4 linked regions of the Homo sapiens genome follow. The protein of the gene in region 1 interacts with the protein of each later gene in a pairwise test. Each region holds a gene or a part of one and is shown in the gene's direction. Other genes may lie near its edges. The genes, in order: NSG1, SPACA1, BTN2A1 and FNDC9.

What was found.
Region 2: the proteins of NSG1 (region 1) and SPACA1 interact in binary tests that used the Homo sapiens proteins (3 or more experiments, as listed by UniProt).
Region 3: the proteins of NSG1 (region 1) and BTN2A1 interact in binary tests that used the Homo sapiens proteins (3 or more experiments, as listed by UniProt).
Region 4: the proteins of NSG1 (region 1) and FNDC9 interact in binary tests that used the Homo sapiens proteins (3 or more experiments, as listed by UniProt).

The regions. Positions count from the first base shown.
Region 1 is NC_000004.12:4,382,107-4,390,116, forward strand, and holds the start of NSG1 (neuronal vesicle trafficking-associated protein 1), read left to right. Parts: upstream 1-4,995; 5' UTR 4,996-5,067; intron 5,068-5,497; 5' UTR 5,498-5,523; coding exon 5,524-5,652; intron 5,653-5,879; coding exon of another isoform or gene 5,880-6,000; intron 6,001-8,010.
Region 2 is NC_000006.12:88,050,828-88,057,848, forward strand, and holds part of SPACA1 (sperm acrosome membrane-associated protein 1 precursor), read left to right. Parts: intron 1-3,118; coding exon 3,119-3,175; intron 3,176-6,784; coding exon 6,785-6,886; intron 6,887-7,021. UniProt on the Homo sapiens protein: Plays a role in acrosome formation and establishment of normal sperm morphology during spermatogenesis. Important for male fertility.
Region 3 is NC_000006.12:26,453,761-26,460,975, forward strand, and holds the start of BTN2A1 (butyrophilin subfamily 2 member A1 isoform 1 precursor), read left to right. Parts: upstream 1-4,194; 5' UTR 4,195-4,382; intron 4,383-4,846; 5' UTR 4,847-4,876; coding exon 4,877-4,958; intron 4,959-5,720; coding exon 5,721-6,068; intron 6,069-7,215.
Region 4 is NC_000005.10:157,342,661-157,350,409, reverse strand, and holds the start of FNDC9 (fibronectin type III domain-containing protein 9), read left to right. Parts: upstream 1-4,732; 5' UTR 4,733-4,869; intron 4,870-6,866; 5' UTR 6,867-6,873; coding exon 6,874-7,548; 3' UTR 7,549-7,749.

The DNA.
Region 1 (8,010 bases):
GGGTTCTTTCCACTTCAGCCTCCCAAAGTGCTGTGATTAAAGGGATGAGCCACCAGGCCTGACCTGACTTTCTTACTATGCACTTGAATTCGAATTTACACCTCTGATGTTCATGTCTTACTTTACTGTGAATGTAAGCTAAGTGGATGCCTATTCAATTAAGCAAACATTTCCTGATTACCAGGCCATGCTCTAGACAGGGGGGATATGGAAATGAAAGATTAAGTGGTTCTGCCTGATTTGCTCATGATCTATATAGAAATGTAAATACCCAGACTCCGGGATAGAGGAGCATAAAGAAAGGCCAAGCTTCAAAGAGGAGGCAACATTGGATCTGGGCTTTGGAGGATGAGGAGCAGTTTGCAAAATCGATGAGGAGTGGGGAAGGCAATCTAGGCAAGAGAAGCAGCATTTGCAAAGGCCTGGAGGCAGGCACTTGGGGGAATGGAGAATTTGGCTACAGGACAGGGTTTAAGGAGAAACAGGGATGACTTCACCCAGGTGGGCTGATTCTTCACATTGCAAATGGATTGTCCCATTTGCAGAAAGATCCAGAGCCTAATGTCTCTCCCGATTCTGTGTCAGTGTGCCGGCTGATCCCAGTGTGCCGGCTGGTCCCAGCGTGCCGGCTGGTCCCGTGGATTGAGAAGTGGACCCAAGAAACTTAAAACCATCAGAGATGAGGATGTGTGCAGGGAGTGACTGTTGTGGGATGCAGGTTTCTTTACGGGGTGATGAAAATGTTCTGAAATTAGTGGTGATGATTGTACAACCTTGTAAATATACTAAAACCAGTTAAGCGTATACTTTAAACTGGTGATATCTGTGGCATGTGAATTACATCTCAATCTAAAAACAAGACATTTGGATGAAGCATCGCTGGATCGACGTGGCCAGGCTGCAGAAAAACAGAGCAGAACCTCTGCTGATCACCTGCCACTGAACCTCCATAGGCTGACAGCACTGGGTGGCCACCCTCCCAGCAGGACCTCATCCATCCTGGAGATCTGGCTGGCTGTGGGAGGCCTGACTAGATCCTGCAACCCATCCCAGCTCTGCAGGGAAGCCTGTGGCCGGGGACTCATCATTTGACTTCTGTGACCTGCAAAGAGGCTCATGAGGCCTCTAGGGGAAGAGTCACCTTAGTCACTCTGAACACTTGTCACATAACCAGGAAAAGTGTCTATCACCTCGCCCTGGCTCCAGCACCGGCTGCTAAGAATAGAGACCACAGGAGTACAGAATTAGAGGTCAAAGCAATAGTAATACCTAAAACAGGCACTTAAAAAAATAAGAATAGCTCATTTGATTCTCACAACACTGCTCTGATGGAGGTTTCATTATCTCCATTTATAGATGGGGAAACTGAAGCATAGAAAGGTTAAGCAGCTTGCCTGAAGTCACACTGCTAGGAAGAGAGGGACAGGATTCAAAATCGGGCCACGGCTTAGCCACTGTGTCACATTGTCTCTTGCTGTGACAGTCTGGACTTCAACCAGTGGGACAAGGGAAGTTGCTAAAACGCTTGGACCTGGAAGTACCAGGGTCATTAGAGAGCAGCGCCTGGCTGCCCTGAGGAGAGGGAGCAGGGTAGGAGTTACAATCGTACAGGCAGTGATGGGTCTGTGCCTGAGATCAGCAACCCTGGAAGTATTCCTAAAAGAGTCATTTAGGGCCAGGTGCAGTGGCTCACTCCTGTAATTCCAACACTTTGGGAGGCTGAAGCAGGTGGATCACGAGGTCAGGAGATCAGGACCATCCTTACCAATATGGTGAAACTCCGTCTCTACTAAAAATACAAAAATTAGCTGGGAGTGGTGGCACGTGCCTGTAATCCCAGCTACTCAGGAAGCTGAGGCAGGAGAATCACTTGCACCAGGGAGGCGGAGGTTGCAGTAAGCTGAGATCACGGCACTGCACTCCAGCCTGGCGACGGAGCAAGACTCCGTCCCAAAAAAAAAAAAAAAAAAAGAGTCATTTAGAAAAACTGAGTATGTGTCAACAATCTTCTGTGGCACTTGGATTTTAAATTGTTGGTGCTGGGATGAAACTGGTCCAGGGGGAGATCGCATCCCATTGATTTTCCCTTTTTGTATGTTGTGAAAATACCTGACATCTGTTTGACCTGCAACCACCATTGCAGCCTCAGCCATCCCCATTTTGGTGGCTGTGGCTTCTTCAACCTAATTTCTGCCACCCTCTGTGAATGACTTGGGTTCTCCAAATCACCACACCCTTGCAAGCTTAATGCCTGTAGTGAGCTGAATGGCGACCCTTAAAAGATATGTCCACATGCTAACCCCGGGAACCTGATTTACCTTACATAGTAAAAGAGTGAACATTATCTTATATGGCAAAGATAGGATTAAGTTAAGGATTTTGAGAGGGAGACCTTATCCTGGATTATCCCAGCAGGCCCTAAATCCTATGATGAGTGTCCTTATAAGAGACACAGAGAAGAGGAGGAGGCAATATGACTGGAGTGACATGAAGGCAGAGATTGGAGTGATGCAGCCACAGTCAAAGAATGTCTGGAGCCACTGGAAGCTGGAGGGGGAAAGAACAGGTTCTTCTCTGTGGCTTGTAGAGGGAGTGAGGCCCTGCTGGGACCTAGACTTTAGACTTCTGGCCTCCAAAGCCAGGAGAGAACATGTTTCTATTGTTTTAAGCCAAATTTGTTCCAACAGTGGCAGGAAGCTCATATACTGTCTTAACACATTCTGTTCTCCTACCTGGAATGCCTTCCCCTCTGCACGCACCTCTCTCAGGCCCACCTGTAGGAAGCTTTATCCACAGTCTTTACCCACAGTCTCTGGATGTCCTCCCTCCTGGCAAGAGGCAGAGGCCACTCTCCCACAGGGCCACTGCTCCCAGCAAAGACTTGCCCTTGTCCGTAGCTCCCTGCGGGTGGCGCTGTGTCTCATGCATTTTGCATTGTCCATGCCCTTCACAGGGCCCAGATACAATCAGCAGAGGAAGAAAACCACAGGATGAAACAGTCCCAATGACCAGCACCAGTGAAGACCCAAGACAGCACAAAAGGCCAGCTAGCAGAGAAACATGATTGTTCACCGTCCATCTCTGGGACAACCTAGGTCCTTCTTGCCTTTCTGTCCTCCTCAGTTGACAGAGTCTCTAAGGGAGGGGCAGGGCCTCCACTTTGTTCCTCCTGGTGTGGAATTCTGACCAAGTGTGTGTGTGTGTGTGTGTGTGTGTGTGTGTGTGTTTGCGCGCGCGCGTGTGTGTTGGGTTCTGTTAAATGCTTGAGCCTGAGACGGGGGGCGGGGCGGGGGGGGGTGCGGGAAAGCCATTTCCTTGCTTAAGCCCAAAGGGTTTCTCCTGACCAGTGGGTCACTCTCATGGCAGATGCCTGGGCAGATTTCTGAAGTGGAGCAAGAGAAATCTTCTCTTCTTCACCTGCTTCAGGGAGGCATCAAAGTGCCAAAAAGGTGGGTTCTGTGGGTCCCCGAGGCCCGTGGCAGGGGCCAGAGTCTGACACCCGCTTTCCCTGGGTTGGGGGCGGGGTGCCTCTGCCAGGAGCCTGGGTTCAGACCAGGCTGGCCTGTGGTCAAAGGCACACTTAGACCCTGGCTGGAGAGTTGGGGCGAGTTACGAGATACCCACTAGGTCACCTGTCAAAGACGGCTAGCCCTCCTGGGGATTTTGAAATCAGGGCACCCGCGGCAAGTTCCCAGGCTGTGCCTGGGGCTCAAGGCGGTGGCTGCTCCTGTGCTCTGGGCTTATTCCCAGGATTCTCAGACGGCTGATGGAAAACGCCCCGGACCCTCCGTAGTGCCGCGGGGAAGTCCCCGGAAAGGGTGTGAAAAAGTATCGAATTTGGGTGATGCCTCCTCCTCGTCCAGCGCCTGACAGGGCCCAGCTCCTGGCCCAGGTGCCCAGGAGGCACCGATCCCCGCAGCCGGCCTCCTCCCGCGCGGGCTCCACTCCCATTTCGGCCTCGCCCCCACACCCCATAGTCTTTCATCCGTGAGTCCTGCAGGCAGGACGGGTTGGAGGTCTGCAAACAGGACCCTCTCTGGGAAGCCGCGACAGCGGCTGAGCTCGGGGTTTGGGGGCGCAGGTCGGGCTAGAACCACCCCCCTTCTCTCCGCGTCCGGGCATCGTCCCAGCGGCCCCTCCTCTGTGCCCAGGATGCTCGGGCGGCGGCTGCAGTGGGACCTCCACCTTCTCTGCCAACCAGAGCGGAGGAACCTTTCCGCCTCCCTCCAAGCGGCGCACTGAGCGCTCTTTGCCTAGAACGACTTCCCTCCCGCTGCCTGGGGCAGCCTCACCCTGGGCGCCCACACCCCAGCCCTGGGAGAGCGCTACTCCGCCTCCCGCACCACCGAAAACCTCCTCCTCCTTTACGGGCCGCGCCTCCTTTACGGGCCGCGCCCCCTTTATACGCGGACGCGCCCTCTTTTGGTCGCCCCCTCCCCAACCCAGCACTAAGGAGCACCCTGCTCTGGTCTCCGCCACCACCCAGCGCCTCCTGGACCCATCCCCCCAAACCCTTGAACGTCCTCAGGACCCCCAGGTGAGCGCGGCGCGCTGCGGGCGGGGACCCTCTCTGCACCTCCCCGCACCCCTGGGGGTCGCTCTGTCCCTACGGTCCCCGCCTCCCCTTTCTCCTTTCTAAGCGCCTCGCGCCCAGGCCGCCGCCCGGGGTGGCGCAGCCCGCAGCCCTCCCGCTCCGGGCGCCCTCCGCCGCTCCGAGACCCCCTGGGGGCGCGTCCTCTCCCGCTCCCCTGTTCCCTCCCCCGGCTCAGGGCGGGCGCGTGGTCCCAGGGGAGGCTCCCGCCCAGCCCCGCACTCCTTTGTGCGGCCGGGCGGGCGCTGCGTCAAGGTGGAGGCGCGGCCACACGCGCGCACCCACCCGCGCGCACCCAGCCCCCGGGAGAGGCAGGAAGGGAGGCGGCGGCGCGAGGAGGAGGGAGCGGCCGTGGAGCCCAATCGTTCGCTCCCCTTCCCGGGTCCGCGCGCGGCGCCGCCTCCGCCATTGCTGCGAGCAGGAGCAGGAGACGCGGAGCTCGGAGCGCTCAGCTGACCTGCCGGAGCCGGGCGTGGGTGAGTGCGGCCGGCCGCGCCTGGGCTTGCCGAGGCCAGACCTTGCCCGCCCAGGAGCAGTGCCCGGGGGATGCCCATCTCCCGGAGTACGCGGGACGGGGCTGTGAACAGCGGGTCGCCCGGGTGCGGCGGCCCCAGGACCGGGGACCGGGTCTGGAGGTGCTGGGCAGGGGCGGCGCCCCCTTCCCTGGCCGCGGTGCGCCCTTGCGCCCGGCGCTTGGGTCCTGCGAGATGAGGGTCTAGAAATACACAGCACCACCCGACCCCCGCATCGGGCCGTGACCACCGCGTCCCCACGAGCCCTCCCCGAGACGAAGCGGGGCCGGGGAGCTCGCGGACGCCGGGACGCCGGTGGGTGTGGGTGCCCACTTCCCCCCCGCCCCGCCCCGGGTCTTGCTTGTGGTGACTCCCCCCGGCCCTCCCGCCGCAGGCTGCAGCCTCGGAGCTCCCGGAACGATGGTGAAGTTGGGGAACAATTTCGCAGAGAAGGGCACCAAGCAGCCGCTGCTGGAGGATGGCTTCGACACCATTCCCCTGATGACGCCCCTCGATGTCAATCAGCTGCAGTTCCCGCCCCCGGATAAGGTAAGCCCCCCCACGCCCCTCCACGTTGCCGGGTGTGCACCCCCAAATCTCGCACGGCGGGCGCAACAAAAGAAACGCGCCGCGTGCGCTGGGTACGCGAAGTGGGGGCGGGCTCGGGAGGCCGGAGGGAGCGCGGCGAGGACAGTGTACCCGCGCGGGATTCTGGATCGCGGGATGCTGGGCGGGGGAGGGGAGCCCTGCCTTAGATGATATTCTCGTCCTGACAGTGGAACGCGGTGGGGCAAGATTCCTTCGCGTTTTTCCTGGGAGCCTCATCCGAGAGGGCCCTGGCCCCGCAGCTGCCCTGCTCCTCCCTTGCCCCGTGGCCCCAGGGGCTCTGGATCGGGGGTGAGCCTAGGGGCGGGCGAGGCTGCCCCTGTACCTTCCCGGGTGTGGCAGTTCAGCCCGACTTGCCCCACCGAGGCGGGGGAGCGTTCTCCTTGGTCAGATGGCCCCTCCCCAGGGCTGAATTGTTCTCGCCCTTTCTGCCTGCCCCTGCCAGGCTGGCGCTAGGTGCAGGAGGGTGTGCGCGCTCACACAGGGTCTCCTTCCTCTTTGTTCCTTTTGTGAAATCTCCAAATAAGTGCCCGGGCTCGCTCAGTATTGGTGTCACTGGGAAAAACCATTCATCAACCTTTCCCCAAAGTGTTTTCTGCTGAATTTAAAGAATCTCCTCTTTTTGAATGTAGCATCCAATTAAGTAGTTTCTGTTTGCTAAGAATAATATTTCCAAGAGTTAACACTTAAAAATGTAAATAGATCTTTGCATGTCTAGGCAATTGTACTGTAAAATTCACATCTAAGACCATAGACACAGCATCTACTCTCAGCATCTTGCTGCCGCTTACGAACCACCACAGCCACGAATAATTCCCGGAAGTGCTTTTCTATTTATTTTCTCATTTAGTCCCTGGTGAAGGGGCTCTGAGCCAGGGCTCTGTCTTCGTTCCAGCAAGTTGGTGATTGCTGACGGGGTGGGTGTTGTGGGGTGGGGGTGTCCTGGTGGGGGCCCTGACCCCTGTGAAGGTGTCCTCCCAGCTTTATTGTGTGTGTCGTCTGGGGAGGGAGGCAGGAGCCGGGAAGAGGCTGGCAGCGGGGGTTTCAGTTCAAGAAAGGGGGATCAGCCGGCCACACCTGTGCCCCCCAGGCCACGGTGGTGCCACTCTGGGCCACTGATGGTCCAGGCTAGGCTTTGCAGGAGGGGCAGGGCTGCCTGAGGCCTCAGCTTCCACTCCACCCCTCCCTGTCTAGGCATCAGACTCGTCCAGTTAGCGGGGCCTGGCCCCGAGGCCCCCACACCCCCTCCTGCCTGGGCCCCCAGCTGCTCGGCTGAGGAGCAGTGGCGCCTGTGCCAGGAACTCCGTGTCCTGAGGCAGCACCTCTATCAGGTGATTCCCCTCACTTGGCCTGAGCCTCCTCTCTTGTCCTCAGTCTGTTCCATTCCAGAACCATTTGGCACAGTTGGTTTATACAGGGAGGAGGGTTTCAGGCAGGTATGAAATCCTCACCAACTAATTAGGTCGACCAGGAGTAGCCTAGGCAGCTCGGAAAGGTGATGAGTCTGCTCTCTCTGCAAGCGTCCGAAGCGGGGCAGCCAGCAGGGATGCTCTTCTCGGGTCCAGCCAGACCTTCCATCCCGGACTTCCCGCCGGGACTGAGTGTGGGTACAAGGGTTATGGCTCTTGGGATCATTTTCCAGAAGGCTTCTAAGGTCACAATGAGGGAACTGAGCCTCAGAGCATTTATGGGACATACCCAAGGTCACTGGGCTGAAGGTTACAGTCCTCCAGGATGCAGAAGTTTCTGGCAGTGCCTCTTACTCCACTGTGCTTGGAGCCAGATGTCTCTCACGTAAGACCTCTCTTAACCTGAACAACAGCAACGTGTTGCTAACGGTCAGAGTTCAGGGAGGCGATGTCACCTGTTTCAGGTGACATGGCTTCTGAGGGGTGGTGACACAGTTGGGTTATAAATGAGAATCTGTTCTGAGAACGTGTATGGAGTGCTGAGGTGCTGGGGTGCAGCGGTGACAGCAGTCACAGTGCTGGCAGCAGAGTCAGGGCTGGTCTCCCCTGACATTTGCCAGACACTTATTCTGCACCAGGAACTATTCTGCCAGTTTTACAGGTTTAAATTCTTTTAATGTGTTGATAATGCCATGAGGTCACTACCATGTTACCCCCATTTTGCAGATGTGGAAATGCAGGCACGGAGAGTTTGAGAATTGCCCAAGGTCACCTAGCCTGTTAGTGGCAGGTGGGGATAGAATCCAGGTCGACAGAATATTGATGGGGCCCCCACATACGGGAGAGGTTTCCATGGGTTTCCTCATCCTCAGCAGTAGCCTTATTTCCCATT
Region 2 (7,021 bases), on another chromosome or scaffold:
GTTTCAAGATAAAGAAAAATCATTAAGATATTAGATTTATGGCCAGGGGCGGTGGCTCACGCCTGTAATCCCAGTGCTTCGGAAGGCCGAGGTGGGCAGATCACAAGGTGGAGATCGAGAGCATCCTGGCTAACACGGTGAAACCCCATCTCTACTAAAAATACAAAAAATTAGCCGGGCGTGGTTGCGTGTGCCTGTAGTTCCAGCTACTCAGGAGGCTGAGGCAGGAGAATGGCGTGAACCCAGGAGGTGGAGCTTGCAGTGAGCCGAGATTACGCCACTGCACTCCAGCCTGGGCAACAGAGCGAGACTCTGTCTTAAAAAAAAAAAAAGATAATAGATTTATATCCTTATACTTTTGTTATACCTTGTATACCATGTAATATACCTTTTAAATATATCTTTTATACAAGTATACCCTTAGATTTATAAAAAGGGGCCAATAGACCTACATAGTAATTGCAAAATAGAAAGTTGTAGTCTATACAATGGGTTTTATCCTATACAAATATAACTATATGTTATTTTTGTCTTGGAATACTTCTAAGGAAGAACAGAAGTCATAAAATATCAGCCTTTCAAATCAACTGTCAGAAACTGAAAAACTCAAATTGCACTCTGATGATATATACCAAAAGTTACCATGTGCTGTCCTGAACTGAAGAGAACATTTCAGGATCTGGCCACAACTAAAAGAGCAAGATCATTTTCCTTATCACTGTGGATGCCAGGCTTTTGTTAGTGTAGTCTAAGACCCAGTAGATTTTTAGGGAAGCCTCTGCACATCTTTGATTCCTATTGAATTCACTATTGAACTCTCCATTCGTTTTTAACTGTCCTATCAAATTAAGACCACCCATAAAATAGTTTTGGACAGTTGGCTTTTTAGCTGTATGTGAAGGACTTTTTATTCCTACAAGGTTTCATTTTGTTAGATTTGCCCATTATTTCACCCTGTCATCTTTTAGATCCAGATGTATCATCAAATATATTTGCTATCCTTTCTAGCTTTGCAGAATTCTGGATTCAGTCAGCATGATAACAGCATCTTTTTCCAGGTCATTAATAAAAATGTTGAACAGGACAGAGCCCTGTGACACATCACTCCTACCATGTTGACACCAACTGGTTAATTAACAACTGTGGTCTTAGAGTTTAAACAGTTTCACATAAAACTACTGACATTCAGACCATATATTTTTTTTACCACTCATAGGTTTATAACAAGAAATTTTGACAAATGCCAAACTGAAGTCCAGTTACATACAATTCCACTGACCCACCATTGTAGGATTCCCATTTTTAAAAAAAGTTACTGAGTAAACTAATGGACACTCAATACATCATAGAATATTAAAGCTGAAAGGGACTTTAGAAACTTTCTTATTTAGTCTCATTTTTTTTTTCTTTAAGGAAACAAGTTGGAAGAAATTGAACAACTCTCCCAAAGTAGAATGCCTAGTGATTGACTAATGGTTTTTGAAAAAGGCTTATATTTAAAAGTAGTGCAGCACTCATTCTCTTAGCCGTGTTTTCTATGTTCAGGATTTGGCTTTTAATTTGTGTCTCATAATGTGTCTGTAGAAGGTATCTAAGCATTCCACAATTCAAAATGGATCATCATGATAGTCTAAATCATTTATTTTCGTTAAAGAAATGACTTAAAGTCAATATTGATTTACTTATGTGCATTGGGTGCTTACTGAGTATGCAAGATACTATACTGGGGCTGGGCACGGTGGCTTATTCCTGTAATCCCAGCACTTTGGGAGACTGAGGCTGGTGGATCACTTGAGGTCAGGAGTTTGAGACCAGCCTGGCCAACATGGTGAAACCCCGTCTCTACTGAAAATACAAAAATTAGGTGGGCATGGTGGCGTCTGCCTGTAGTCCCAGCTACTCAGGAGGCTGAAGCAGAAGAATCACTTGTGCCTGGGAGGCGGAGGTTGCAGTGAGCCGGGATCATGCCACTACACTCCAGCCTGGGCAACAGAGCAAGACTCTCTCGGAAAAACAAAAACAAAAAACTATATTTGGTGCTCTTAAGTACAGAATAGTAGTGTTTATGAAGCTATTTTGAGATTTTACAGTTATCAAAATAGGGGAAAAAAACATTAAATTAATAAGTACAAAATGAGTTTAAATTGGGTAATTATATCTTAAGTATGTTTGTAGTACTAAACAATTTATAGAATGCTTTCACACACATTATCCTTATTTAATTCTTACAGCAATCAAATGAGGATTTTCCTTTCCAAATTTTGCAGAAGGGTTAACTAAGCCTGACAGCATTTAATTAAATTTGCTTAAATGCAAACAGCTAATTAGTGATAGAAGCAGCTCTTTGGACTCCAGTTCGATGTGTTTTCCATGCGATTTGTTGTCCTAGGGTACAATGCCTTTTGAAAGTCATCTTCTAACAACTCACTTTATATTTTTTCTATTGAGACTTTCGTCCTAATTTGAGCTGAAGAATTGCTTATATACTATAGCTAGTGGAATTCTATGCCAAACTTCAAATGATTAGAAAAAGAGAAACATATGATTTAGAACCAACAACACTTAATTTCTTAAATAGTGATATATTCCTATACTAACCTTGTAAAGTGTTGAAATAAATTCTTAGAAATATTTAAATTTACCATCTTAACCTGGGAAATGAGTAGAACTAATCTATAACTTTTATCATTTTAATGAACACTGGTTAAGGGCTTCTTTTTGAATGGAAATTATACACTCAATTTTGGAAAATAGAGAATAGAAAACATTGGTTTTTACAACAGATAGGGCTTTGTGTGTTTTTCTGAGACCCTCTATCAAGTTTTGACTCACTATATATCAACTGATGAAAAACATTTTTAAGGTATATACAAAGTTTAAATATAAACCTTCCTATTAGGTTATTTCCTAATTTAATGGACTTCTTTAGAGGTTTGAGACTCTTTTGAGTTAGACAATAACAGTACTCAGAATGGCATTGTTTTCTGATTTAAATGGAAAACTTAAAAAATGTCTGCTGCCCATATCATACACATGTCTTTCATCTCCAAGTAAGAGGTGTTTCACTTAGAAAAGTTTTCATATAATTAAATAATGTATCTTTACCCTTTATGTTTAGTTTCAAATAGGAATGTCGTCAAAGAAGTAGAATTCGGAATGTGCACCGTTACATGTGGTAAGTAGCTTGGAGCAGATGAATAAACCATGTTGTAATTTGCGGGGGAGGAAAGGTAAAAGCAGATAGTGTGCAACTTTGTAACTTGTGTACTTTCATGCATCTCTCATGGATTTTTATTTCTAATAACTATAATGTATACACAAAACTCAGGGTGATTGCTTTAAACTGTAAGATATTTTCAGTTTATAATCTCTAAATCTTATTTTAAGCCAGCTCCCTATTTTTTTTTTTTTTGCACATAAACTGCCTTCACCAAAGTAAAATTTTCTCTATCTCACAGATGTTCAGAAGACGAAAGATTTTCCAATGCATCTCACAGATGTCTTCCCACATATTGTGTTGGCAAATTTATCAAGAATTTGCTTATTTGTAATAGTCCATTCTAAATTCTACATTTCTCCAATTTGCGTGTCATGTTTTGGAGAAAAGATGTATTGGCTTTGTGGGGAGGATAATATTCAAAGAATATGACTTAGTCTGATCATTCCATGGGTAGAAATTGGACATAAAATTTCTCTAACAAGTTTACAATGAAGTTGATGCTGCTAGTTAGAGGACTATCCTTTGAGAAACAATGCTGTAGACCAGGGTACTGAGAAGACCATAGATAATTCACAATCAAATTAAATTTCTTCTAAATAGAATCTGCCTTGGAAAGAAAATAGTGATGAGAGGGAAAACGGGACAATTATCAGAGGATAAGAAGACAAAATCCATTCAGATCTAGATCAGAATGAATTTTGCAGGGGTGGCGGTGTCAAAAATTACACCTGAATTGTTTTTATTTGGAGAAGCTTTTTAAAATTGTGGTACAGTATACCCAACATAAAACTTACCATTTTAGCCGTTTTTAAACATACAAGTCCGTTGACTTAAGCATATTCACATTCTTGTGCAACCATCACAACCGCCCATCTCGAGAACTTTTTTATTATGTCAAACTAAAATGCCCATTAAACACTAACTTCCTGTTCCCCCCTCCTCCCAGCTCCTGGCAACCACTCTTCTTTCTATCTCTTAAAATTGTTTTAACCTGTTTTTTTTTTTAACCTTAATTTCTTAGTAAGTCAAGAGTCATAAAATGAGAGAAATCCATGTAGTAAGCCTGCAATTACTTATTTGTGGTTTACATCTTTGTTTAGCTACTAACTTCGGAAATTTTCACAGGTAGAGAATTATTTTTATGACAGTTCGAGTAATTGCCATTGTTTTCTATTATTTAAAGACAAGTTTAGAAATTGTACTCACTCAAATGATTATTTTTTTAAAATTATTTGCCTACTATGTGCCAGGCATCGTTATAGATGCTAGGGATATGAGCAGACAAAGCAGACAAAACTCTCTGCCCCCAAGCAATGTATAGTTTAGTAAGAGCAGACACATAATATGTAAAACATGTAATGTATCAGATGGTAATAAGTTATAAGGAAAAAAATAAACTAGGAAAAGCAATATTTCATGCCGAAAATGTTAAAAACCTTCCAATTTAGAACTAGAAGAGAAAAATGCCTTGATGAAAATTCTGTTAAACTCCTGAAACAATATTTTAGCAGTCAAAAAGTTTTCTTTTATATCCAGGCAGATTTTTAGATGTTACTTGGTATTACAGAAAATCCCACACCTACATGCATCTCAGTGAACTGTATTTAGCTAAATAAATAAATACATAAAATAACTGCTTTAAGCCGGGCGCGGTGGCTCACGCCTGTAATCCCAGCACTTTGGGAGGCCGAGGCGGGTGGATCACGAGGTCCAGATATCGAGGCCATCCTGGCCAACATGGTGAAACCCCATCTCTACTAAAAATACAGAAAAATTAGCTGGGTGCGGTGGCACATACCTGTAGTCCCAGCTACTTGGGAGGCTAAGGCAGGAGAATTGCTTGAAGCCGGGAGGTGGAGGTTGCGTGAACTGAGATGGCACCACTGCACTCCAGCCTGGCGACAAAGCGAGACTCCATCTCAAAAACAAAACAAAACAAACAACAACAAAAAACCTGTTTTAAAAATATTAACAATAGCATGTTAATTACTTCGGAATTAAGGCTGTGCTTCTAAAGACGCTTTCAGGTTGGCCGTGGTGGCTCATGCCTGTAATCCCAGCACTTTGGGAGGCTGAGGCTGGCGGATCACCAGGTCAGGAGTTCGAGACCAGCCTGACCACCATGGTGAAACCCTGTCTCTACCAAAAATACAAAAATTAGCTGGGCGTAGTGGCACGCGCCTGTAATCCCAGCTATTCAGGAGGCTGAGGCAGGAGAATTGCTTGAACCCGGGAGGCGGAGGTTGCAGTGAGCTGAGATCGCGCCACTGCACTCTAGCCTCTGCAACAGAGCAAGACTCCGTCTCAAAAAAAAACTTTGATAAACTCAAGTGGAGCCGTACTTCAGCCATTCTCAGCCATCATCTCTCTTAACCAAAGACCTTCTTCCTTCCATCCTTCCATTTTCTTGTTTCGTATGTAGCCTTCTCCCTTACTATTCAACGTGCGGTCCACAGACTGCATCAGTATCACCTGGGAGCTTGTTAGAAATGCAGAATCTCAAACCCATTCAAGAACAGCTGAATCAAAATTTGCATTTTAGTAAATCTCCAGGTGACTTGCATGCACTGTCAAGTTGGAGAAGCAGTTATAAGACACCTCTAGTCATCAACTTCCCTTTGCCCTCTAAGATAACATCGTAGAGGGGCTGGAAGAGGAAATCTGGTAATTAAGGAAATAAAAATGGACTCTTTCTTAGCCTGTCTTAACATGGGACACGGTTCAACATGTAGCTAATCCCATGTTTTGTTATTTCTCTCAATTGTGGTGATGTGAGGCCAACTCTGGAATTCTGAGATCAGTTAGGAGAGTTAAGTTCTTGTTACAAAAAGTGTGACAATCTAAAGAGAGCATCTTGTTGGAAATGGAGATTTGGTCAGTAATAGGTTCTCCTCTCTATATTTAATACAGACATTTTATGAATCTAAATATTTAAAGGCATCATTTATGCTAAAATGTGATTTTTTATTTTCCTCCAGAAACTTTCCCCATGCTTCCCCAAAAAGTTCCATGGTCAAATAAGTTTGGGAAATATTGTATACCACTATATTCCATCAAATCCACGAATTTATGGACTGTAAGAAGTACATTTTATGTACTCTAAAAAGGAAAAATACTGCCAATTAATTTATGACATGTTATCAATTGTAAATGTATTCTGATTTTAAAGATGTTAAAATGTTTTTACATCTTAGATCAATGCGAATGTACACAATAGCATGTTATTTTACTAGTGTATTAAAAGTTCCCTCAAAATTCCGTAGTAAAGCGGTCCCTTTAATTTCATTTGATGTAACATTTTCAAATGTGTATGATCATGGAATCCTTTTTCTTATGGTAACCAGAGGAACTAGTGTTTCACGTAACTCACTCCAGAAAATGCTGTTTTAGGAAATAATTCAAAATGAAGAGCCAAAAAAATTTTAAGTGTTATCGTTCTGAATTTAGAAACTTAATTTCTGAAATTAGAAGAAAAGTCTTAAGAAAAGACCTAGGTGGGAAAGTGAAGACACTCTGGAATCAGTTTTTTTCTTAACATTTGCCTTTTTAAATTTTAAACCAAAGGTATTGGTGTTAGAGAAGTTATATTAACAAATGGATGCCCTGGTGGTGAATCCAAGTGTGTTGTACGGGTAGAAGAATGCCGTGGACCAACAGATTGTGGCTGTGAGTTGAATTATGTATTGGAGGGAGACTGTGGGCAAGAGTTTACTCTGGGGAAATATTTTTCACCTCAGGTTGCCACTGAGTAGAAGGAGGCAACCAGTTGACATACTCAAAGGAAATCATAAAATTTTAAAT
Region 3 (7,215 bases), on another chromosome or scaffold:
AGTGCAGACGAGGTTTCACCATGTTGTCCAGGATGGTCTCGATCTACTGACCTTGTGATCCACCCACCTCGGCCTCCCAAAGTGCTGGGATTACAGGTATGAGCCACCGCGCCTGGCTTCAGAAATTCATGAACTTAAAGCAACACAAATTTATTATCTCACTGTTCTGTAGGTGAGAAGTCAGAAGTCCCACAGGGATCTCACCAGGCTAGAATCAAGGTGTCTGCAGGCTGGATTCCTTTCTGGAGTCTCTAAGGAAGAATCTGTTTCCTTGCTTATTCAGACTATTGGCAGAATCAGTTCCTTTCATTTATAGGACTGACGTCCCAGTTGTTCCCTGGTTTTTAGCTAAGGGCTGTACCCACTTCTAGAGGCTGCCACACTCTGGCTCCTAGCTCCCTTCCTGTATCTTCAAAGCAGCAACAGCGCATTGAGGCTCATCTCCTAGGTCTTTTTCTCCATTGTGTCTCTCTGATTCTTTTACCTTCTCCTTTTTTTCCTTCCTTTCTTTTTTTTTTTTTTTTCTTCTTTGACAAGGACTCGCTCTGTCACCCAGGCTGAAGTGCAGTGGCGTGATCTCAGCTCACCACATTGTCCCCTGGGCTCAAGCAATCCACCCATCTTAGCTTCTCAAGCAGCTGGGAGCACAGAGCCACATCACCATGCCTGGGTATTTTCTTGTAGAGACAGGGTCTTGCCATGTTGCCCAGGCTGGTCTCAAACTCCTGAGCTCAAGCAATCTGCCCACCTTGGTCTCCCAAAGTGCTGGGATTATAGGCATGAGCCACCACGCTCAGTCTGCCTTTTACTTTTAAAGACTCCTATGATTAAACTGAGATCACCCAGACAATTTAGAATAATCTCTCTATTTTAAGGTCCATAACCTTAATTCTGTGTAAAATTCATTTTACTGTGTTATACATTCTTTTCATAACTTTCATAGTGAATATAGCTCAAAGGGTGGGTGCGGGGAGCACTATTCAGCTCACCACACTGATTTGGGAAGTGATTCCAGGAAACACAAGTGCAGAAACAAATTGAGAAATGAAAAAAAGCCAATTACATGACAAATGGGATAAAGGGTTCACTCATGAGTCAGTTACCATGTGGATAACTTGGCTGAATCCCTTTTAGGACTCTCTAAGAAACCATATGAAATGTGTGATATAGCTCAGAATCTTCCTAAGGACTACAGGGCCTGGGACTTTATCTCCACTTCCCATCCTCCTTTGCTTGAATTGGTTGAAGGTTGGCCTGGGAGTGTTAATTCTAATGCACTTTAAGATTGGGCTATGTAACTGCAGAAAAGCAACTATCACGGGTGTGATAAAGCTCACAGGCAAAGGAGAAGGGAGATACTCACTGGAGGTGGAAAGGTTGTCATCCTTGCAGAAAACTGTGCCTCAGCTATTGGCAAACTGTGATAGGCCAAGAGAATATGGGATGGGGCATCAACAGCGTCTGTTATAAGGGCTCTGCCTCTGAGAATATAGTGAATGCCTTTCAAGGTCTCTCTGCCCTCGCTGTACCACATTTAGCATTAGTGACCTCTTCTCTTCCAATACATGCCCACATCACATGGCCCTGCAGCCTCACCACATGGACTGGGTCTGGGATGGACACCTGACCCAGGCTAGGCCAGAGGACCAAGTGACATGTGGCTAGTTACTCCTGTAGCAGATGTGCATGGGAGCTGTGGGAAGAAATGCTCCATTCATGGTGTGGACTAAACAATGGTGGATTGCAGAGAAGACCAAAGCAGATGAGCAGAGAGAAGGCTACAAGATGGAAAGAGTTTAGGCAAATTTCTCACGTTTGGTTCTTTTAGAAGCCCAGTATCATTTCTTCTTTTTGAAAAAATGTGTTCTTTTGAGGCAAGATAAATGTACTCGTTAATATTGCTTGTAGTCCTAATATTCAGAAGCTTATGCAACTATTATAATATGTTCAGTGATTCTGTGAGTCAGGAATCTAGAATTTGAACAGGGCAGAGTAGGAATGGATTTTCTGTATGTCAACATGTCTAGGCCTCCCCTGGGAGTACTCCATAGCTGGAGATGACACAGCTATATTACCTTCACAGACTGTAGTTTATTGTAAAGCAAAAGGAAATCAATGCTTACCCTGTATCCTGGTTCTTCCAGGGTTGGCAGGTCCATAAAGAACCTTGCCAACGTGACCCTTCCTGTCTCTATCCCTCCCACTACAGAGCATGATTGGGTTAGGTTGTTACTATCTAACCGGGCACACCCCAGTAGAGCCTGATTTCTTTCTAAGCTACCCCATCGTCAACTGATCCTCTTCCTTCTCAGAACACACACGTTTCCCTCTAGCTCAGATCAACTTTGGCAGAGGCTGAAGCCTGGCTTAGCTGGATGCTTCTGGCAAAAGGGCTACTTCAAAGCCCTGGGCCTTATTTCTTCAGGTAAAAAAATATAAAGTCAGATCTCATCCTGGCTGGCCATGCTGTTAGACCCTTTCATCCTTCTCTTCTGCCTCTTCTCAACAGCTGCCCAGTCCTGTTTGGAATTCATATACATACAGTTCTAATACTGATGTATTTACCCTCATAAGCCACTCAACCCAGAATCTTATTTGAATTATAATCCAGAAACATCAGGTGACGTGTGAGACTACTGTATGAGAAAGAGACAGTTTAAGGGTCAGTCCAATGGAAAAAAGAGTTCTCAGAGCTTTCTTTAGCTTATTCTCATCAAAGAGCTTTCTCTGCAGAAGGAACCTACTGGTTCCTCCTTTCCAGTCCTAGAAATCCTGACCTAGAGTGGCTTAATCCTGCTAGCACCTCTCTCTCGCACTCTGGTGCCAAATGACTCCAGGAACTGGGCCATGATGTGGTGGGAATGACCTTACCCTGAGCATGTCACTCATGCATTGAACAACAGCTAAGAGCAGAGCTTAGAGCTTAGAGCTGGGCCCTGTAAGGTGAGAGGAATCACATCCTGCAGAAGTCTGTCCTGAGAAGCAGGTACTCCTGTCACAGCAGAGACACAGTGGATACCTGAGTAACAATAATACAAGACAGGACGTGGGAACAGCAAAAGATTTGGGTGTCAGAAGAGGCCGAGAACACTTCAGGCAGGAACATTCAGAGTTGTTCTTGGAGGAAGTAGGCACGAAGGCTGGGCAGGATTTCACGGGGCAGAGATGGAGCAAGCAATTGAAATGAAAGCCATGGCATGGGAAAAGGAGCACTGGCCACAGGGAGTGCAACGTTGTGATGCAAGGCCACTGTGGAGCCATTGCTAGCGTATTAACTGCAAAGTTTTGAATTGAATCAGAAGGGAATTGGAGGCCTCCAGACTAAGCATTTAGACACTTGAGGGGAATATTGACAACTGGGCCTCGGGAAGATTATTCTGGAAGATATCTTTACAATTACAAGATTGGAGCCTTTGGGAGAGGGATGATGTTTACGGGAGGATGGTATGTGTGCTAGTGTGTGTGTCTGTGTGTGGCTCTTGGACCCAACCTGACCACCTACTATCTAGAAGGTGAAGGACAACTAGAAAGTTTTGCTCAATTCCATCTTCTGCCACCACCAGAATGCCACCTCCCTGAGGGAAAAGGTTTTTGATCCTCAGTCAGGATTCTCAGCACCTCTTATCCGATAGCTTTGGAATGAATGGCAAGGCCTTCATAACAGCCACTGCAACTGCTGTCTCCTTTCCTTTGCTACCCCTCCCGCTCCAGCCATGCCAGCTTCCCCCAAGCCCTCCTGCGCTCCAGGCCCAACCTCCAAAGCCAGCAACTTGAACAGGAGTCCTCTGGCTTTGGAAAGGGGGCGGCTTACGTTTTCCTGCTCATGTTTCCTCCCCAGCAAAATTGCCCTCTACATAGAGAGGCCTCTCCTTGTGGACACCAGCAAAGCCACCGACCTCAGTGACAAACCCCAGGGAATCTCCCCAAGGAATCTCAAAGCGAGAGAGAGAGAGAGAGTCTTGAGAGAGAAAGAGAGAGAGAGAGAGTCTTGCTTTCGAACAAAGAAAAAGGAAATAAAAAGACCCGATAATCTCAAAAGGTTATTTGCTGCTTGAAATTTGTGATTCGGTGTATTCTACCCAGCAACTGCTGAGAAATAAGGTTCGACACCATTGGCTGGTTCACTCACACCCGGCCAATCCTGGGCTCTAAAATACTTAGGGAACTCTTGGGACTGTGGAAGCCCAGGAGACCAGATTTCGTTTCCTGCATCTCCAAACATGGCGACCTAGGAGAAGGGGAAGAACAATTTTTTCTCCTCTTTTGGGAAGGTTTGTGTCTAGTAGTGCCTGTGCCCCTGGGCAGATTGGAGAGAAGAGGGACGACTGGAGAATCGTCGAGAACCAGCGGAGAAAAGAAAAAGCAACGTTTAATTCTAGAAGGTAGGAAACGGAGGGGAGGCGCTACAGCTCCGGGGTGGGCACAGTAGGTGGGGGAAGCGGGGTCTGCTGTGGACACGAGACGGGGTCCTGGGACAGGGAAAGCCCACCGGTGGGGAGGCGCGGCCTCGCCTGTCTTTGCCTCAGGCTGCCCGGCCTGGGTCGCGGGGAGGAGGAAGTGAAGGGAGGAGGGTGTGGTAGAATCCAGCGACAACTGAAGAAACTGCATTCTGGCCAGAGAAGTGAGCCGAGGAGGGCGGAAAAAGGCCCCCTTGATCTTGGCATTGATGGCTTACTTCATGGAATGTTTAAGGAATCCCTCTCTCGGGACATACCTGAGCCTTCGGATGCAGGGGACTCCCTGAAGTTGGGGCACTGATGAGACCTACTTGAGTGACGGGAGAGGTTGGGCCCGACCAGCACTGAGGTGCCAAGACTCCTAGGCTGATTCTCCTCTGTAACCCTAGGCCTCCTGTCCCTGCCTGCTCTGGGTGCTCATGGAATCAGCTGCTGCCCTGCACTTCTCCCGGCCAGCCTCCCTCCTCCTCCTCCTCCTCAGCCTGTGTGCACTGGTCTCAGGTAGGGATGTGTGCCACTTGCTGCTGTCACCTATCAGAAAGGAACATCAACCCTGTAGTCTGCAAAGGGAAAGAAAGAAGGACTGTGGAGTTGTTGACTTACCCTTTCATTCTGAACATGTTCATTGAATTTATACCAGCACTGTCCAAAAGGAATACAGTGAGGCACAAAGGCCGAGTGCATGTACAATTGCAAATTTTCAAAAAAAATTAAATTTTACTTTTTATTTTAAAAAGTAAAAAGAAACATGAAATAAATTTGTATACTATATTTTGTTTCGCCCCAAATAATCAAATACGAATATTTAAATACTTAGTTAATATACCATATTACCAATGAGATAGTCAACATTTTGAAATTTTAAATCTTCATAATCCTGTGTGTATTTTACACTTACAGCTCATTTCAGTTGGAACTAGCTAGTGGATATGTGTCCTATTGCACGGCTCAAGTTTACAGTACACTCAGGCACAGCACTAGATTGGGAAATCGAGGAAAATCCCCTCAAGGGCACAGGGTGGACAGAGGGTGCTCAGGGCAGGTTCCTCAGGGTTTCCTTCATGAAGCAGAAGCACACTTTATAGTTACTGCTCCCAGGGGTGCTGTCGACTAGCCACAGCTACTGGTCCCCAGATTTCTCAGCCCAAAGAGACCCTATGGCCATGGAAAAAATAAGTTTGTCCCTAGAATATCTGCTTCCTTTCTTGCCTTAGAGATGTGATGGCTGGTGTCTTTGTCTGACTCTACCCCTTTGTTGAACAGCCCAGTTTATTGTCGTGGGGCCCACTGATCCCATCTTGGCCACGGTTGGAGAAAACACTACGTTACGCTGCCATCTGTCACCCGAGAAAAATGCTGAGGACATGGAGGTGCGGTGGTTCCGGTCTCAGTTCTCCCCCGCAGTGTTTGTGTATAAAGGTGGCAGAGAGAGAACAGAGGAGCAGATGGAGGAGTACCGAGGAAGAACCACCTTTGTGAGCAAAGACATCAGCAGGGGCAGCGTGGCCCTGGTCATACACAACATCACAGCCCAGGAAAACGGCACCTACCGCTGTTACTTCCAAGAAGGCAGGTCCTACGATGAGGCCATCCTGCACCTCGTAGTGGCAGGTGCGTCGCTTCATTTTGCTTTGTTACTTTGGCACAGTGTGACTTTGGGGAAAGTTTCTCTCCTAACCTCAGGCCCATTGCAGACCAGCAAATTTTTGTCTGGACTCCCTTTTCCACTCTCCCTGTGGAAACGGAATTCCAGGGAAAAATCCTTCCTCCTGCACAAGGGACACATGAGTGGGTTTGCCCTGCTAAGCTAAGGGCTTCACTTCTTGAGAAGCACATGCAGAATTCAGCTGAGGCCGTGAGCAGGGGAAAATGGTCAGTCTCGGAAGAGAAGTCTTATACCTGCCTTAGGATTGAACTGTGCACTTCTTTTGGGTTTTTTTTTTCTTTTTGAGACAGAGTCTTGCTCTGTTGTACCCTCGCTGGCACGATCTTGTCTCACTGCAACCTCTGCCTCCCAGGTTGCACTTCTGAGAGTGAGAGGAGACACTGTCAATAATTGTTCCAAGACAACTGGAATAAACTGATTACCCAGAGAACTACAACATATCAAATCTTATTTCTTGATAAATATTAATCTTTACTTCATCTTTCCCAAAATGCTGATTGCAGAGAGAGTGACTTATTGTAAATAGATGGTTTTATTAAACCAAGACGAAATACAGAAGCAAAATTATATATAGTTCCTGCTAACTCCATAGAGAAAGACTACGAATTTTGCTGGGAGGTAATAGGGAAGCCTTCCACATAAAAATGCATTTAAACTGGGATTTCTAGGAATTTGTTAAAATGACATTAAGTGATTACTTCAGTTTTGGGGTTAGTGTATTATGCTTTAAAAGATATATTTGGGCTGGGCGTGGTGGCTCATACCTGTAATACGAGCACTTTGGGAGGCAGAGGCAGGTGGATTACTTGAGGCCAGGAGTTCGAGACCAGCCTGGCCAGCATGGTGCAACCCCATCTCTACTAAAAATACAGAAACATTAGCCAGGCTTTGTGGAGTGTGCCTGTAATCTGAGCTTCTTGGGAGGCTGAGGCACAAGAATTGCTTGAACCCAGGAGGCAGAGGTTGCAGGGAGCCGAGATCTTACCACATCACTCCAGCCTGGGCGACAGAGCAAGACTCTGTATCAAAAATTAAACAACAACAAAAAAGATATATTTGAGGACTGAAAAAGCCTTTAAGGTGCAGGATAAT
Region 4 (7,749 bases), on another chromosome or scaffold:
ACAAAAATATAAAGCGGGGAAAGGACAGACACCCTTTTCAACAAATGGTGCTGGGATAATTGGCAAGCCACATGTAGAAGAATGAAACTGGATCCTCATCTCTCACCTTATACAAAATTCAACTCAAGATGGATCAAAGACTTAAATCTAAGACCTGAAACCATAAAAATTTTATAAGATAACATCTGAAAAACCCTTCTAGACATTGGCTTAGGCAAAGACTTCATGACCAAGAGCCCAAAAGCAAATGCAACAAAAACAAAGATAAATAAATGGGACTTAAACTAAAAAACTTCTGCATAGCAAAAGAAATAATCAGCAGAGTAAACAGACAACCCACAGAGTGGGAGAAAATCTTTGCAAACTATACATCTGACAAAGGACTAATACCCAAAATCTACAAGGAATTCAAACAAATCAGTAAGAAAAACAAACAAACAAACAAACAATCCCATCAAAAAGTGGGCTAAGGACATGAACAGACAATTCTCAAAAGAAGATATACAAATGGCCAACAAACATAAAAGAAAAAGCTCAGCATCGCTAATGATCAGGGAAATGCAAATCAAAACCACAATGTGATATCACCTTACTCCTGCAAGAATGACCATAATCGAAAATCAAAAAATAATAGATGTTGGCGTGGATGTGGTGAAAAGGGAACACTTTTACGCTGCTGGTGGGAATGTAAACCAGTACAAATATAATGGAAAAGAGTGTGGAAATTCCTTTAAGAACTAAAAGTGAGAACTACCATTTGATCCAGCAATCCCACTACTGGGTATCTACCCAGAGGAAAGGAAATCATTCGAAAAGGATATTGCACACGCATGTTTATAGCAGCACAATTCGCAATTGCAAAAATATGGAACCAGCCCAATGCCCACTAATCAATGAGTGGATAAAGAAAATGTGGCATGTATACATCATGGAATACTACTCAGCCATAAAAAGCAATGAAATAACGGCATTTGCAGCAACCTGGATGGAGTTGGAGACCATTATTCTAAGTCAAGTAACTCGGGAATGGAAAACCAAACATGATTATGTTCTCACTTGAGTGGGAGCTAAGCTATGAGGACAGAAAGGCATTAAGAATGATACAATGAATTTTGGAGACTCAGAAGGGTGGGAGGAGGGAGAGGGATAAAAGACTACACATTGGGCATAGCGTATACTGCTCGTATGATGGGTGCACCAAAATCTCAGAAATCACCACTAAAGAATTAATCTACGTAACCAAAAACCACCTGTTCCCCCAAAATTTATTGAAATAAAAAAAACTGAAATAAGTAAATAAATAAATAAATACATAAAGTGAGGGAATTTGGCCAGGTGCGGTGGCTAATGCCTGTAGTCCCAGTACTTTGGGAGGCCAAGGTGGGTGGATTGCTTGAGCCCAGGAGTTCGAGACCAGTCTGGGCAACACGGTGTGGGGAGGATGCTTTTTTTTTTTTTTTGAGATGAAGTCTTCCACTGTCGCCCAGGCTGGAGTGCAGTGGTGCGATCTTGGTTCACTGCAATGGCAGGGTGCTTTTATGCTCTGTGGGGACTCACCACTAGCTCTTGGGAAGAGGCATGCTGTATGCATTGCTGCAGATTTAAGACAGGCCCCTGGGAAGACTGAATGCCATGGGAAAGCCGCAGAGCAACTATCTGATCTCATATCTACTAAAAATACAAAAATTAGCCAGGTGAGGCGGGGGGCAGTGGCTCACGCCTGTAATCCCAGTACTTTGGGAGGCTGAGGTGGGTGGATCACCTGAGGTCAGAAGTTCAAGACCAGCCTGGCCAACATGGTGAAACTCCGTCTCTACTAAAAATACAAAAATTAGCTGGGCATGGTGGTGCACACCTGTAGTCCCAGGTACTCGGGAGGCTGAGGCAGGAGAATCACTGGAACCCGGGAGGCAGAGGTTGCAGTGAGCCGCAATTTTGCCACTGCATTCCAGCCTGGGCAACAGAGTGAGACTCCAGCTCAAAAATAATAATAATTAGCCAGGGGTGGTAGTGCACACCTGTAGTCCTAGCTACTTGAGGGGGCTGAGGCAGGAGGATCTCCTGAGCCTTGGGAGGTCAAGGCTGCAGTGAGCCATGACTGTGCCACTGCACTCCAGCCTGGGAATTCCAGGGCGTGCTCTGTGAGCCACTCACTTTCCCCATGTGCCAATCCAGCTTTGGGACTGGGGCTTGCCCCATATTATCCCTTCACTGCCACCTTCAGGAAGGGTGGAAGAACCTTGCTCCTAGCTGATTTCCTCTAGCAGTAATTTACTACTGATGTCAACTAGCTGGGGCTCACCTGGCCTGAGAGCGAAGAGGCTACAACTTGCACAGACTCTGGAGGAATTGTCCCTGATGATGGAGAAAGTGTGAGCCTGGCTGGGGTGTAATGTCCTGGGGCAGGTGTCCCAGATACTTTATCTCCTTCACAAACGGCTGCACTGGCTCCTCTGGGTGCTGCTGGTGAGCGGCGACAGCTCAGAGGAGCGGGATGAACCCTGGCCTCCGCCTCCGAGTCTGGGGCCCCACCCCATTTCACTGGCAGCTCTGCCACTCATCAGTCAAGCGGTCTGAGGAATGCCATGTCTTCTCCCAGGACTGTGAAACAAGAGGGCTTGGAGGCCTCACATTCTCTGAGTATCTTAATTCCACAGTGGAAAATTTCTCTTGGTTAAAAATGTCATCCAAGAATATTAAAAATAAATTCCAATTTTCTGTGGAAAAAGGCTTGAGTTCTACCTTGTTCCTCCTCAGACCCCTTAACTCTGGTATTTTTACTCCCCGCAAAATAACCTTTTCAAAGGGCATCTGCAAACAGCTGCGTGGCCTTTCTGTGGGGAGGATGCTTTTATGCTCCGTGGGGACTCACCATTAGCACTTGACCTGGCTGTGCTCGCATGGGAAGAGACATGCTGCATGCATTGCTGCAGATTTAAGACAGGCGCCTGGGAAGACTGAATGCCATGGGCAAGCTGCAGAGCAACTTTCTGATCAAGGAACACTGGCTTGTTCCCGAGTTCCCAAGACTCCAAGCCTCCCGGAGACCTTTGGCCAAGGGTAGGGTCACAACTCACCAAGGCGGCTCTTTTTTTTTTTTTTTTCCAAGGGAAAAAGTCTTTCTATAATACCCAGGCTGGTCTGGAACTCTTAAGCTCAAGTGATCCTCCCACCTCAGCCTCCCAAGTGGCTGGGACTACAGGTGCACACCACTGCAGCTGTGCCTGGCTTTCTTCCTAACCTTTTATCATTAATGTGAATCAGAAAGAGACCTTCATGGGTTAACTTGGATACTTTGGCCAAGAACCAAGAAGAGAAAAGCTGACTTTTAAAAACATATAATGTGTATAAATTTATTCAGGTCTACATCTATCTGAGCTACTTTCCACCCTCTATTCCAGACACACCCTGTGATCTCAATAGAATGGTGGCAATGGGTTCTTACAAGGTTGAAAGGAACAGGAAGGGATGGAACCTCAAAGCCAGACGGCCCTTTATGAGAAAAGGGGAGGCAAGCAGTCTGGATTCTTGAAAGGAAAGGAACGCTGGGGATGATTCAATCCAGGAGTAGCAAACAGTTTCCATTTCTGGCGTCAACTCCAACTGATTGATTGGGAAGCAGTTTCTTGGGACGCTTGTGTTCAGAGGAACTCTGGGGCTGTTTCTGCACCCAGCTGGAAGCAGTGCTGCATTAGATTCCTAGGGTTGCTATCACAAATTACCATAAATGTGGCAGCTTAACATGACAGAAATTTATTCTCTCACAGTTCTGGAGACCAGAAGCCTGAAATCAAGGCTCTCGCAGAACCATGCCCTCTCCAAGGCTCTAGGGGAGAATGTTTCCTTGCCTTCCCAGCTGCTGATGGCTCCCGGTGTTCCTTGGCTGATGGCAGCATCCTTCCACTCTCTGCCTCTGTTTTCCCTTGGCTTCTTCCCCTTGAGTCTCTCTGTCTTTTCTCTTACAAAGACATTAGTCATTGGATTTAGGGCTCACCCTTAAATCCAGGAAGATTTCATCTTGAGATCCTTAACTAGTTATATCTACGAAGGCTCTATTTCTAAATCAGGTCACATCCTAAGGTTCTGGATGGATATGTATTTTGGGGGGGCATTATTCAACCCAGTGAGAGTGCCATGATGGTTTAGCAAGCTTGACAGGGGTTCAGGGCTGTGCAGGGATAGGGCTCAGGTCTTCTGCCTTCTGATCTGCCATCCTGATGTAGCCCAAGCCCACAGCTTTACAGATGATGGTGGAACTGAGACTCAGACAATAAAAATAAAAGGGTCTTGACCAGTACCATATAACTATGTAATGGCACATGAGTCAAGAATAAAGAAAGATGAAGATAAAGAGGTGGGGTAGGCAGTTGGGATGGGGAAGTGTAGGGGTGGGAGGGGATGAAGATGAATATTACTGCTTTGGTTGTGGAATAACTGAGAAAAGCATCTTTGCATTTAAAACCATTGGCCAAAGAGGATCTAGATGGGACAAGAAAATAATAATCAGCCAACTGGGGAGAAAATGTAGGAGTGTTAGAAGAATTAGTACTGCACTGGGGACCAGTTTTCAGGGGATCATCTGCCCTTTTTCAGCCAAAGGAATGAGAGCTCCTCTCACTGGGCAAAAGCCTTTCCAGGCTGGTCCCTGAAAGCATCGTGCGTACAGATGCCTGCTGGTTGCCATGGTGAATGATGCTGATCTGAAGAAATGAATAATGTGAGCATTAGGGGCGGCAGTGGGATTACTCAGTGTTGAGAGAAACAACACGGAAAGCCCAGAGCAGAGGAGGGAGAAGGCCCCATTCTCTCAGCTTTAATCTACTGCACCTCGGAGGGCAGAGCTCTAACCAGACACGCTGCAAGCATCAGGTAAGACATATAGATGGCTCTTCTTGGAAATGGAAATGGCTTCTTTTCACACTCTGCTTGGAGAAGGGCCGGGCAAATGAATAGTTAAAAATAGGGGAGAATTTAGAAACGGAAACAGAGGAAGAAAAATCAATAAGGGAGACGGACCTGGTCCTAAAAGGTGAGGATGCTATTTGCGTCTTGACAGAAAGCTCTTAAAAATGTCTGCTGAGGTAATTCCATCTGTACAGACAGCTAGTGGCAGATAGGAAGCCAAGAGAACATTTGTGCGTGACAAGAAACAGGATTCCTGATTACTCCTGATGGAAAGGTTTTACACAGGTGGCTGCCTATAATGAATTAAGCTCTTTTCATCGTGGTCGAAAGTGTATTTATAGTGATGTGTGGTGTGGGGAGGATGAGTGTGTAGAGGACACCAAGCTAGGAAACATAAACATTCGGTCTCCTTCATGATGACCTTCCCTGGAAGGGTCTGAGCACATCCGTCTCATCCCTTTCGTTCCCTATTTACTGGGAAGAAATATTCAGCCACATAGAAAGACACTATTCACCTTCCTGAGTATCTTAGTTCACTGTTACCCTTACAGAAGAAAAACAAGGATTAAGAAACTACTCAATGCTGTGCACCTTTCTGCAGCTCCACTCCTGGAGGAAAATGGGCACAAACACAAGAGGATGGGGGAAAGCAGAGGTGAGAGAAAGGCAGGTCATAATAGCCATTGGTTTGGCTTAATATCCAATGCAGGCGAAAATCCAGTTGACAGCTGTTTACTATGTCACTGCAACCCAAAATGAAACCTACGGGGTTTCATGTGAGGGAGGAGAGGCGGAAGACAAAGCAGGGTGAGACTGTTATGTGAATATGCGTAGGCTGACTATGACTGTCTCTGTATTTCTGATCAGGGGCAATCAGTAGAGGGAACTGCATGAGAGAAACTAAAATACTTGAAGATGGCTCTCTCTTATCAAAGCGGGGCCTGGCAATCTAAAGAGGGCTCATTTGATTTGTCTGGAAAAACAGCAACTGGGTCTCAGTCCTGGCACCTCATTTTGCGATAACGTCTGTAACTAAACCCGGCAGCCTTGCATTAGGAAATGTAGTGGTTAGGCGGCACTAAGTCCTTTTTCTACGTATTAGCGGTGTGACATCAGGTTGCTCATCCGTAAAATGGGAATCTAGCTCAGAGGATGTGATGAAGAATAAAGGAAATTAATTACTGCCTGTGAATCATCTAGCATGACAAGTGACATAGCAACCACTTACTGTGAGTGGTTATTACCATGATTAACATTCATAATAACAGCAGAATTAAATAGTGGTAGTTATGCTGATATTAGGGGCTGATTATCTTCACCCATAAAATAAATTTCCTGGTACCGCTGGCTTTGAAAAAACAAACAAACAAAACAAGAGCAGAAGCTTTGGGGTGAGATCAGCTGCCAAAGAGTGACGAAGCGAATTTCCACTCACCATGGGCAACAGAACCAGGAGGCTAAAAAAAGCAGTGGGCAGAATGTTCTAGATCACTGAGCTCACAGTACTTGGAGCAGAAACAGGAGGTCAAGAAGGAAAATTGAGGTGAATCAATTGCCTGAGGGGAGGTCACAGACCTGAGAATAAAGGTGGAGCCTCTGAGGTTCTACTGATTTCTCCTTACCTTTTCTTCTTTTTTCTTAAGGGGATGAGAACAATCCCCTTAAGAAAATCCCCTTTGTTATCTGAAGGATCTCAGCTAGGGTGGGATGTGGCTGGGATTGCATGGGTGCATCTGTTCTTAGGCCTGAACTTTGGCATGGGACAGCCCCAGTTTTAACTTTTGTCCTGCCACTTTTTCGCTATGCCTAAATAACAGAACCTCTCGGCCTCCATTTCTTTGTCTGTAAGATGAGGGCAACATGAGTGCCCGTCTCAAATGTGCAATAAATGGTGGCTATGATTATGATAAATACATACTTAAATCAGGGGATGTCACTCTTCACTTTGATTCTGGTTCCAGAATCGGGATGAACATCGAGGTGGGGAACATTTCTTATACAGGAGCCATCATCTCCTGGTCGTCCTCGGAGCCCTGCCTGGAGGACTATTACCATATTATGTACAGGCCCAACTGGAACAGCATCTTCTCTGGCTATCTTCGCTACAGCTTCCACCACGAGGAGAAGGTGCCTCGAACGATCAGCTCCGTGGTGCTGGAACATCTTGCCCCTTCCACTCTCTACTTCCTGTGCATCAGCTGTAAGAAGGCTGCCTTCCCTTACAGGCACTACTGCACCATGTTCCACACCCTGGATAAGAGTCCGCTGGCTCCTGGAAGCTCCCTGGTAGACCCCCAGATCTCCCTTTGGGTGCTGATGGCCATTCTGCTGGCCTGCTTCACAGCCGTCTTGGCCTTCATCTGCCTCCAGTTCTGGTGTGTCCGTTGCCATGAGCCGCGATGGTCTTACAGGGCTGGCCACATGGAGGAGGCCAATGGGTTGGTGAGATGGCCAGAGGAGGCCCCGGATCTTGGTCAGAGGGAGGAAGACCTGCAGGGGCTCCCCCTGGTGGAAATGCCACGCAAGAACTCCAGAGATGGAGCTGAACTGGATCCCGAAGCCAACCAGGATGCCCCTGATGCGGGTGCCTTACAGAGGGGGGGTGGTGACCCACCCGCTATACTGCCTCATTGTGGGGAATGAGAGTGGGGAGGAGAGCGCCCGCATCATGTAGCCTAAAGCTTTCCACACAGTAGGTCGTTTGTACAAATGTGTCTATAGACTACCCATTTCTCTCCCATCAAACGTCACTGCTATTGTAGGTCACCTGGGTTGGATGAATGCCCCATGACAAAGCTTCTCAAGCTGGAAAATGTATCCCCCAGGGTATGCCAAGGCACAAAC